3 linked regions of the Homo sapiens genome follow. The protein of the gene in region 2 interacts with the protein of the main gene of each other region in a pairwise test. Each region holds a gene or a part of one and is shown on either strand. Other genes may lie near its edges.

Region 1 (3,530 bases), on a different chromosome or scaffold from region 2:
CTCGTTCCTTCTGACCCTCTCGCCCATTCCTGAGGTTTCTATCTGGAGTTTCAGGATGTGTTTATCCTTGTATTGCGAAAAAAAGCCCGTCTCTTGCCCAATCTGCTGTCTCGAAGAGATTCTATACTGGTCGTCTGGGTATTCAGCTTTCCTCTTTTTACAATTACACAGGAGACGATTTAAAATCACCAGACGGGGCGGGGTGGGGGAGACGGCCAGTCTATCGCGGGTGCCATTCGCACTTCCTTCGACCCAGAGACTCGGAGGCTTCCTCGACTGCCTCCCAAACGCCACGGGACGGGGCAGAGCAAGCCTGCAGCCCGGTAGAGCAGGAGCCGCAGCCCCAGGACTCCAAGGGCGCGCCCGAAATGGGGTCCCTCAAGCGACCAGTCAGTTCTCCCTCCAGGCACTGAAGCAGGGCGGGGACAGGTGGGGCGGGGTGGGGGACCGGGGTGCTGTTCTGGAGGGTTTGGTGTGCACGCTCTCCCTAGACGCCGGAAGAAAGGAATAGCAAATTTAACGATCAGCCTAATTGTTAGAGAAGGCACCAACTCCTGCCCCGACGGCTGTTCTCCAGGCTAAATGCGATTCTGTTGTGCTATACAATGGGTGAAGCTGTAGATAAAGCTGTCTCTCTCCGACACTCTCCAAAGCAGCCTGCGCGAGAGGGACCCCCACCCTCCGGGCCGGGCGGTAGTGGGCGCCCAGTATCCCTCCACTCGAACTGGGCTGGAAGGAGGCAGGCGGCCACGGGAAATAGAGCCTGTGGCGACTGCGCTGTCGGATCGCAGCGCCCTCCGGGTTATTAATGGGCCTGGAGGAGCCGCCGTGTCTGCGCCTCAGCGCGGATGGCCTGCCCCGAGAAGGTGGCCTCGGCGCCCGCCGGCGCGACCCAGCCTCCTTGGCCCAGCTTCCCTGAGGAGCCACGGCGACCCCGCGCAAGTGTCAGGCTTATGGCACTGAGCCTGACACCTGGCGAGTCCCGCCTGGCAGACACGGTGAAAGCTGGCCACTGATGGATGCGCCAGAGCGGGGCGGCGGGTGGCCCTCGGGGCACCCGGGTACCTGCCGCCGCCAGCCTTGGCCGCAGCCAGGCCTGTTGGATCACCCTGGATGTGCCCTATCTGCGCTGAAATGACCGAAATGCCCAAGAAACTTGTGAGTCTGTATGAAACGTTTGTGTCAGGAACAGCTAATCGCAACCCAGCATGGTAAGGGAGCCCTCGATTTGCCATTTGCTTCACAGCAAAGGAGGGCTGACTATGTAAGCCTCCTGTCTCACTGGAGGGGGCTCTAGCCAGCCAAACCTTTGCCTCAGTCAGCAGCTACTCCTCTACTCCTCCCAAGAGAGCTGGAAGAATGAGGGCTGCAAGCTTCTCAGAAATGTCCCCAGACCTCTGAAGTGAAAAGCAACAACTTGTTTCGGAAAGCAGAGAAGTGTCCATGCCGCTGGGCCTCCCTTGCACAAAGGCCCTCTTCTGTCCTTCCTCTGCCAGCAACACAAACTATTGTTAAAATTCTCCCAGACTCTGCTTTTGACCCCAGGGCCTGGATGGGAGTATTCTCACACTTATCCATATGTCAACTCCTCTGAAACACACACACTTCACACACCCTCTCAAGCTTATTGATTGTGAAAATAAAAACTTCAAGACATTTTGGGAATTACATGAAAGACAATAAACACAATTACAGTGCATACCATGTGTCAGACACCTGTCTAGAACCAAAAACCAGCATATTATCTAAGTATCATGATTCCCATTCTGCAGATAAAGCAATTCCCAAGCACTACTACTCCACCAAGAACCAGAAGCTAGAAAGTGGCAGAGAAAGGATTCACAGTCAAGGCTGCCTGACTGCAAGGCCTCTAAACCCAGAGATTTTTAAAAGACTAATGAAAGCTGGGGAAATTTAACATTCAAACTCATGACTCAATTGAATTGAAATATTTCACTGAAGTAACTTTGGGGGCCATGAAAATTGCTGTAGCATGATTGAGTTATAGAGGTTTCTCTCTTTCCCACACTCTTGTGTTTTCGGACATTAAAGTAAGAGATTGGATAGGAAAATACATAGATAATGTCTATAATTTTGAATGTTACTGTCTGACTTCAGAGACAGCCTTTCAGCACCTTTGCAAAAATAGCTAAAAGCAAATGACAATAAGCAAAGGCAATATGCCCATGGAAATAGAAATAAGTCACTCCAGGGAGTTACTTAACTGATTTTTTTTTCTGCTTGACTCAATGATGCAAATGGTCAGAAGAGTGTTTAGTTTTCATTCCCTAGCAGCCTGTGCCAGAGACAGTCAACTTCCAACATGCTTCTCCACACGTGTCATCCCATCAACGACATCAGCATAGGTACCAACTCCAGCCACTACCTCCATAGACAAAAAGCACACTTCTAATATTTGTAATGCATGATAATAAAACTGTGGCTAAGGCCTTTCTCCAAGAAGTCCTCTAAAGCCGTCTTCAACTTATTGTTTCATTTGTCTCCATAAAGAGTTGAAAAACTTAATAGTAGCATTATGCTACTATTAAAAGTGAAAAACTGAGGCTCTCCCAATATCTAGAAGACTATCTGTGTGTTAGGTCCACAGCAGGCTAGACAAAGTCAATCAACTTTAATTAGTCCACCCAACAGGGGTCTTCTTAATTTGTGAACCACTTCATGCTATATCAAAATATTCTGCCAGAAAAGTTGACCAACTGCCATCAAGATACATGTTATATTCCAATGTTATTTTTTAATACACAAAATCCCCCAGCTGAAACATTTGGGTTCTAACTTATGTCTGAGTCTCAGGGTAGCTTGAGGATATTAAAAACAAGTAACATTTCTTGGGATTGACAAATATGCTTAAGAAGACAAACATTCTAGCAGAGTATAAACACCTACATGAAAAGGTTTGAAAGAGAAGCAGGCTATATGAGAGGACCAAACTATGTATAAATGTATATAATATATGTCATTATATTATATATACACACACAGAGCATTCCAAGCCAAGCAATACATAATACAACTACTTAGGTTCCTAACAAGGAAGCAAGTAAATGTTCATACTTTCTCTTAAAATCAGGGGAAGAGTTTTTGTACAAGTTCATAATTGTTATTCATAAATACTCTTCTATCTTGAGTAAATCTGTCAATGCTCCTGTCTAAGCGTCTCTGAGTAAAGGAAGGTGCTGTCATTAGGTTACAGACTTGTTCGCCTCCTGGCATCAGAAGGCCAGGCCAAGTGCAGTTAAGAGCAGACTTTCACTCTTCATTTCCTATCCTTCTGTGTTGTTTCAATGTCTTTAAAGTGCAATAGATCTTTACAATATATCTATTTTAAGGTAAAGGCGGCAAAGCAGGCCATGGTTTTCTTTTCTGGAATTTCATTTCTCGTTCTAGGAAAGGTGAAATATAAAACGCTTCCGGGCTTTTGGTGTGTGGAGAGGCCAACAGTCATGTGTAGGCGCGTGGGGAGTGAGAGCTACATCACATCTTCACTCCCCAGTACCTGCCCGACGCCT
Region 2 (4,417 bases):
AAATAAGTTTTGAAAATTCTAGTGCTTAAAAAATGTATATATATATATATATATATATGTACATTTATAGCCTTTTATTTTCCCTGAGTACATGTTGGCCACTACATTCCAAATTGATCTCAAACGGTTTTCCAGCTTGTTGGGGGGTGAGGAAAAATAAATGGAGAATATATTTACATGCCCTCCTATTCTTTTCTTTTAGAAGTCTCATAAATAGTAAATTTCCTATTTTAAAAGCCAGGACATTTTCAACCTCAAATATTTGGAATTTTTAAAGGCCATATTAAAATGGATTACTTCTGCTATCTATAATAAATATGAATTGTGAAAATAAATTGTTTGAGGGAAAATAATGTAGGTTTTAAAAAGTTCCATTTAGAAAGGGAAGAATGAGACGTAATAGAAAATAACGATGTAGTGTAGTGACTTAGCATTTTATTTCGTCTATATAACTAGGCTTAATTTTAACACCTTAATTTTAACATTAAAGATGGCACGTCAGACACACAGATAAGAAATCAATGTTCTGAAATTAATATCCTACTTACATTAAACATCCCTATCAGGAAGACACAGAGAGTAGAAGCATTTTGCACTAGACTTAGGAATAACACTTCCAGTTCCAAGGAAGTGAAGAAGGGGGAACATGTTTGGCATCGGAGGCTGTGTTTTTGTTTGCTTGCTTGTTTTTCTTCTAATGCCAGAACAAAATACCCCACTCACGTTCATAGTACCCCAGGAAATGTGCAAATCCGGAAAGCCACAGAAGCCACAGCCGAAGGCAAGAAAAGATGACTTGACGCCCTGCGAAGGTTACGTTCAGGTGGTTTTTAGAGGAACGTAATCCAGCTGTTTCTTTCTAACCATTTTGCAGGGAACAGAAGTTCGTGTTTGCTCTCCAGCAGGATTCAGATGCACACGCCCAGTATGGGCCGCGCAAGGTGGAGTGAGCAGCTGCGGATCGCTCCCCACTCCCACCTGGCTCTAGGAGGGCCCTGCGGACTTGGCCAGGGAACTGGGCGTGGGCGATACTAAAAAAACTGGTGAGGTCCCCTCTCCGCCCAAAGGGGCAGCCAGCGATGTCAGCCTAGAGCCCTCTGCCACCGCCTGATACCGCAGCAGCGCCGACGCGGCCGACAGGTGCCCGCCCAGCACCGCGCCCTTGGTGGGAGCGCAGCCGTTGGCGCAGTCCTCCTCCTGATGCTGCTGCTGTTGCTGCAAAATTGTCCGACAGGCTTGACGGTCGCTGGAGCAGGGGGCAGTAGCTCCACGCGGTCGGGGACAAACTCTGCGCAGCCCCTGTACCCGCTCCCCTGACCCCTTGCATGATACTCTCAATGCTGAAAGAGATGCATCCGCCTCCCGGTGGCGACGCCAGACCCTTGCCCTCCTCCCAAGGCTGAGGACCAAGTGAGGGCTGCAGCACGGGAAGGGTGCCGGGGGTCGCCAGGTCCGCGCCTTCTGCTTTCTTCGGTGCCCCGGCATAGGCGGGGGCCGAGAGCAGTAGGTAGCGAGGAGGATGCGGGTGCAGCAGAGCGTAAGGGCGTCTCCCGGGGGCGGTGTTGGGGTAGGCCCCCGGGACTGGCTGCGGCAGGGCAGGGGCCCCAAGCAGAGGGCCTGGGCGGGGGTTGTGCAGGGCGGCGTGTGCAGCAGGTAGAGGGAAGGGGTGGGGCAGGTGGGCTCCCGGGGTCAGTTGGTGGCGCTTGAAACGCTTCCTACGCCGGAGAAAGCTGCCATTGTCGAACATGTCCTGGGAGGCGGGGTCCAGGCTCCAGTAGGTGCCCTTGCCTGGGTGGCCCGGCTCGCGGGGGATCTTGACGAAGCAGTCGTTCAGCGAGAGGTTGTGGCGGATGCTGTTCTGCCAGGCGGGGAACTTGCGGCGGTAGTAGGGGAAGCGGCCACTAATGAAGGCGCAGATGCCGCTGAGCGTGAGGCGCTTGTGCGGGCTTTGCAGGATGGCCATGGTGATGAGCGCGATGTACGAGTAGGGGGGCTTTGCCGGCTGCCGGGCATCTTCAGAGGCCGCCGCAGACCTTGGCGGTGCCCTGAACTCGGTGCCAAACTCTGAGGGGTCGCTCGGGCCGCCGCCCTCGATGTGCTCTCGGGGAAGCGCAACCCCGCCCCACCGGGCCACCTGCAGCCCCGGCTGGAGCGACTGCTCTAGGAACTTCTGGCTCGCCTCCTCCTCCTCGTCTTCCACCTCGTCTTCATCTTCCTCCTCTCCCAGGACATCGATTTTACCGTCTTCCCCATCGGAGTCCCGGAGGCTGCGCTGCGGTGTGGAGCGAGGGCGCTCAGCTCTTGGCAGGTTCATGGCGGAGCAGGTGCTTCAGTCGCAGGGGATGTGGCGGCCGATCACCTGGCCCGGGGCGGGCTGAGCTGGAAGCCTGGGATGAATGTTGCAAGAAGCAGGAACGCTAGTGGTTACCCTTTGGGATGTTTTCCTCTGCTTGTTTCTACTCCTTTGCAACAACGTCCGGCAAAGATGCCTTTGCCTTTTATAAAAGCTTCTTCAAGACCATGTGTGGTGGACTCCCCCCTTTATAACCCTTCTTCCCCTACCTCGGAGCGGTGCCACTTCCTCCTAACGTAGTCCAGGGATGATGGTCTTCTGGGCAAACACCGTCCGGAGAAAAGCCCAGCCCCCTCCTCCTCGCACCCACCTGCCACCAAGGAAGATGCTCTACTCATCCGGTGCAGCCAGACAAGTAGGCAAGCCTTTGCACGGGTTCTGTTAAGGCGCATTTAAACCCGCGCAAATAAAAGCGAGGTAGGAAAGTAGGATACTCAACATTCTACGACCATCTCGACATGCAGCCTTCCCTCCTGGAGAAAAGAAATGGTGGGGCAGGAGGCTGAAATGTACACGGTTGTTTGTAAAGGAATGTGTAACCGTAAAAGTATGTTTTTGTGTTTCACAGCTGGTAATCACCCATTTTCATTGGTAGAGTCTGTCCTTACCCAGAATGGTGAGCTGAATTATATTTAAGGTTCTGACAATATTCCCAGGCTTCAGGGGGGTGTTGCTTTGCTCCTTCTACCTTCCTTCCCACCTCCCCAAGATGCTCTCCCCTGACTCAAATTTTCAGAAAAGGTTCAAATGTCCCAGCACTAAATTGTGTAAGTTTATTCAGGGAAGGCAGGAGAGCTCACACGGAGTCCTCTGTCCCCTTGTAGCAATGGTTCTCCAATTTCTTTGAATATTTAACCACAGAAATACATTTTATATCACAATCTTACACATACAGACATAATACATAACTAAGATGGCTTTCACGAAACAATATACTTACACTATAGTGATCACTGATATTTCCTTTTAAAAAAAAATGGCCATAACCAACTAAATTGATTTCACACATACCAGTATGGGCCCAGTTTGAAAAATCCTGTTCTTACAAAGTGGCCCCACATACAAGAAATGCACCCACTCTATAAGGGCTTCTCTCTCTCCCTTTCCTCCTTCCTTTCTTCATCCTTTATAACCAATTCATTTTTAGAGACAGGGTCTATGTTGCACAGGCTGGCTTTGAATTCCTGGGCTCAAGTGATCCTCCCGCCTCAGCCTCCTGAGTAGGTGGGACTACAGGCGTGCCACTATGCCTGGCTCTGGCTCTTCATTCTTTTTTTCCTTTTTTTTTTTTTTTTTTTTTTTGAGACGTTGTCGCTCTGTCGCCCAGGCTGGAGTGCAGTGACACAATCTCGGACCACTGCAAGCTCCGCCTCCCGGGTTCACGCCATTCTCCCGCCTCAGCCTCCCGAGTAGCTGGGACCACAGGCGCCCGCCACTACGCCCGGCTAATTTTTTTGTATTTTTAGTAGAGACGGGGTTTCACCGTGTTAGCCAGGATGGTCTCGATGTCCTGACCTCATGATCCGCTTGCCTCAGCCTCCCAAAGTGCTGGGATTACAGGCGTGAGCCACCGCGCCCGGCCTCTTCATTCTTTCAGAAATGTCAACATTAAGTGCTTTTACTGTAATAAAACTTGGGACTTCAATGAGGCAAGAAGGGGCTGCAGTGTTGCCTTTAAATCAGTGGGTCCTCATTCACTGTCTGCACTGGGGAGGGGCAATATGACAGCACAACTGTTCATCTCACTCGCTCCACATCCTTAGAAGTAACACGATTTTTAGATTGGCTTCATGAAAATTAGCTCAGAGACTAAAGTAGCACTACAGAGGAATAAAAAAAATATTTGTTATATAAATAAGGATCTTATTAAAATACTAAGTAAGATACTATGCCACGGTATATATTCATAATTTAAAACCCACCTACTTGGGAAAACTTTGAGGTGCCATCTAATAAAAATGCAGCATGAAAGAATATTATGCCCTTGATAGTCACATAGTGTCTATAATTATGACAACGAATGTTCAGTGAGAAATCAAACGCCAACTGCAAGGGCAAAATATA
Region 3 (3,530 bases), on a different chromosome or scaffold from region 2:
AATATTACTGCTTCTAACTTTCTCTCCTCCAGTCATATGTATGTTAGACTTCTTCATCATTTCCTCATGTCTCTGTAATAGTTTCATATTGTTGCTGTCACAAGTTATCCAAAGCTATTGGCTTAAAGCAATACAAATTAACTTTCTTACAGTTCTAGACTCTGCCTAGCAAACACTGTGAGGGGAAAACAAGTTTTAAAAAAGTTTCTGGGTACTGTCCTTCTCTAGGGATCTTGACCCAAGAACTAGCTACCTGGAGATCTCTAAAATCCAAGTTTTGTCTGCTCCGCCCCATAAAACTAACAGCTTCTCTGCTTTTAGAAGAAACCCTCTGCTAAGTTTCACAGCATCTTGTCATGCTCTAAGAATTAGCAAATTCCTAGGAAAAAAGAGAAGCATGGAACATCAGCCCACTTCTCTGAAGCTCCTTTGGTTCTATGGTTGTGGTTTCTTAAGTCCTGGATGCCTCAGCAGGTCTCTGATGCCTTCACTTTTCTTTTTAATTCTCATCTTTCCTGTTCTTAGCAAAAGCATTAGTCTGCAGCAACCTCATCTCTCAGAGTCATAAGTGGAAACCATAGCTTGGGCTCTGAATAAAAACTCTACTGCTTATTAGTTAAGTGATTCGGCAAGTTATTTAACCTAGAGTATTTAAACATTTGAAGTTTCAATTTTCTTTCATGTAAAATGAACGTTAACACTATCTAATGAGGTTACTGTGAGGATGTGAAGATTAAATGAGACATATTTATAAAATGTCTGATAACAAAAACATTCTTATTGTAGGTTTTGTATGTGCCAAATACTTTATATAGATTTAATAATTTAATGTAGACATAGTTATCCTCCATTTCCTTTTCAAGACCACATATTAGTAAGTGATGAAGCTCAGATTTGATTCTAGAACACCAGTTTTCAATAACTACAAATTGTTGCTTCTATAATGTTGCTTGAGTATTGTTCCTGACACAAGTAAGTGGTCAGTAAATGTAAATTATTATTATATAGAAAATATAAATGCTTCAGAAATAGACACCAATCACATTAGTTTTTCTACTTTTTCTTCTGATGTTTCTCCTTTTCATTTTTGCAAAAACATTCTTACAACATCTTTCAATGTATTCTTAAAGACGCTATTGTGAAAAATGAATGTCTTACAGCCCACTGAGTAGATAGGCAATAATTTGCTTAGGCATTATTATATTGTTGAATATTTAGAAGGTTTCAAGTTTTAGACAGTATAGATATCAGTGCTATTAACATTTTGTGCCTTTAACTATTTTTCTTATTTAAAGTATTTTCTCAGAATGAAGTTCTATATGTGGAATTATTGGCTCAAAAGTATGAACATTTTATTATTTGTTGATATAACTGCTACTGTTATTAAGCCAAAAAGTTATGATAATTATGATGCCATCAAGCAACAAACATGAAGGTTTGTATCAAGAGAACAGGAATTAAAGCTATGAAGTATAGGAATGAAGGACATGTGGACATGGGGGAAAAAAAGGAGATATGAATTTTGAGGCTGGAAAAGAAAAAATGGGGTGCTGGAAATCATTTCTTTTGAAGCAGGCAAGCGCTAGTAATCCCAGCTACTTGGGAGGCTGAGGCAGGAGAATTGCATGAGCTCACTAGCGCCACTGCACTCCAGCCTGGGAGACAGAGCAAGACTCCGTCTCAAAAAAACAAAAAAAACAAAAAAACCCACCATATTAAATTATTATTATTTTGTTTAGTAGAGATGGGGTCTTGCTATGTTGCCTGTGTTAGTCTCAAACTCCTGGCCTCAAGCAATCCTCCTGTCTCAGCCTCCCAAAGTGTTGAGATTATAGATACAAACCACTGTGCCCGGCCAACATATTATTTAAAAATTATACATATAAATTGCAAAACAACCACACAGATTAAAGGCCTATGTTCTAGAGGCTCCCCCCTCCTTTTTTTTTTTTTTTGAGACAGAGTCTTGCTCTGTAGCCCAGGTTGGAGTGCAGTGGCTCGATAACAGCTCACAGCCTTGAACTCCTGGGCTTATGCGATCCTCTGGCCTCAGCCTCCTGAGTAGCTATGACCACATGTGTATATACCACCATGTCTGGCTATTTTTTATTTTTTTGTAGAGACAGCATCTCACTATGTTACCCAAGCCGGTCCCAAACTCCTGAGCTAAGGCGATCCTTCTGCCTTGGCTTCCCAAAGTGTTGGGATTACAGAAGCCACCACACCCAGCCTAGAGTCCACTTATTTGGTGTGTAATCTCGAGCCTTGAATTGCCTTATCTATAAATTGGGATTAAATTTTATAATATCCGACTAAAGCCAGAATTGGAACATCGTATCTCTTGTTTTATATTCCTGATATTAAATTTGTTTTGTGAGTATACCATACTTCAATAAAAATGAAGGAATCTCTCCTTTTTTGCTGATATGCTTTGAATGTCTTACACGCTATGCTTTGAATATCTTATCTTGTGATGAATATCCTGTTAAGAATCTTATGTCAGACTTTAAGTTACTATTTTAAAAGGTTACTTTACTTTGTGGGATTCTCTGAAGGCCAAGCCATTTGCCTGCTCTTTCTACAATCACATAAATCTTACTGGGTATACCCAAAGGCCGTTGCTTTTCTACAGCTGCCTTCCTCCTTCTTTGTTACCATCACAGATTTTGGGGTAGTAGGTACCTGATCATCAGGGAGAACACAGAAGGCCTTGAAAATGTGGGTTTAACCATACCAAGATCTTTCGCTCTGTTTATGTACTATAGCCTCCCCAGTAAAAACAAAACAAAACAACAAACAACATCTCTGCTAAATGCTTCATTATGAACACAGGTAAGTCAGTGCTTGATTGTCCCAAGTTCCAGTTCAGATTTTCCACTTTCCATTATCCTCCAGTAAATTTTAGTAGTGATACTGAGGGATCATGCAGTATGAGAATAAACACTGGCCTTAGAGGATCTGCATTCAAATCCTGTCTCTACCACTTACTGGTTAAGTGATTTTGGGCAAGTAATCTAATCTTTCTAAATCTTATTTTTCTCATATGGAAAAATGCCAAATTATTAGAATTAAGATAACATGTAGTGCCTAGCACAATACTACATAAATGTTAGTCAAGTGGGAATTGGAATTATGGCTCAGTGTGGTCTGAATCTGAATATTATTCAGAAAATAAGGACAGCAGCACTGAATAAAATTTTTTTTTGAGCTGAATAAAATTAGAGAATTTTGATTTCTAGGATCCTCAAAAATCCATATCCTTTAAAGAAGCCATATGGGGTAACATGTATAAGGGTCCTGAATTCCTTCATGTTCCAACAGATCCAGGTTCCAAGGTATGGAAACACTTATCAGATTATAAGCAAAGAGAACAATAATTTTATGTGTGTTCAACTAGCCAAATATTTTTGCTGGTAAAATCGTGGTGAAAACAACATCCTTATACATTGCTGTTATCATTAAAAATCAGTACAATCTTTTAGGGAAATGTAGGTATCATATCTAGAACTACCCATGCTTGTAGAACCATT

The links. Proteins that work in one complex are often made in the same cells at the same time.
Region 1: the proteins of FOXD4L1 (region 2) and PRDM6 interact in binary tests that used the Homo sapiens proteins (3 or more experiments, as listed by UniProt).
Region 3: the proteins of FOXD4L1 (region 2) and HMG20A interact in binary tests that used the Homo sapiens proteins (3 or more experiments, as listed by UniProt).

What each region holds. Positions count from the first base shown.
Region 1 is NC_000005.10:123,095,741-123,099,270, reverse strand, and holds part of PRDM6 (putative histone-lysine N-methyltransferase PRDM6), read right to left. Parts: intron 45-3,530; exon of another isoform or gene 1-44. UniProt on the Homo sapiens protein: Putative histone methyltransferase that acts as a transcriptional repressor of smooth muscle gene expression.
Region 2 is NC_000002.12:113,497,154-113,501,570, reverse strand, and holds FOXD4L1 (forkhead box protein D4-like 1), read right to left. Parts: upstream 2,907-4,417; 5' UTR 2,315-2,906; coding exon 1,088-2,314; 3' UTR 421-1,087; downstream 1-420.
Region 3 is NC_000015.10:77,427,388-77,430,917, reverse strand, and holds part of HMG20A (high mobility group protein 20A), read right to left. Parts: intron 1-3,530. UniProt on the Homo sapiens protein: Plays a role in neuronal differentiation as chromatin-associated protein. Acts as inhibitor of HMG20B. Overcomes the repressive effects of the neuronal silencer REST and induces the activation of neuronal-specific genes.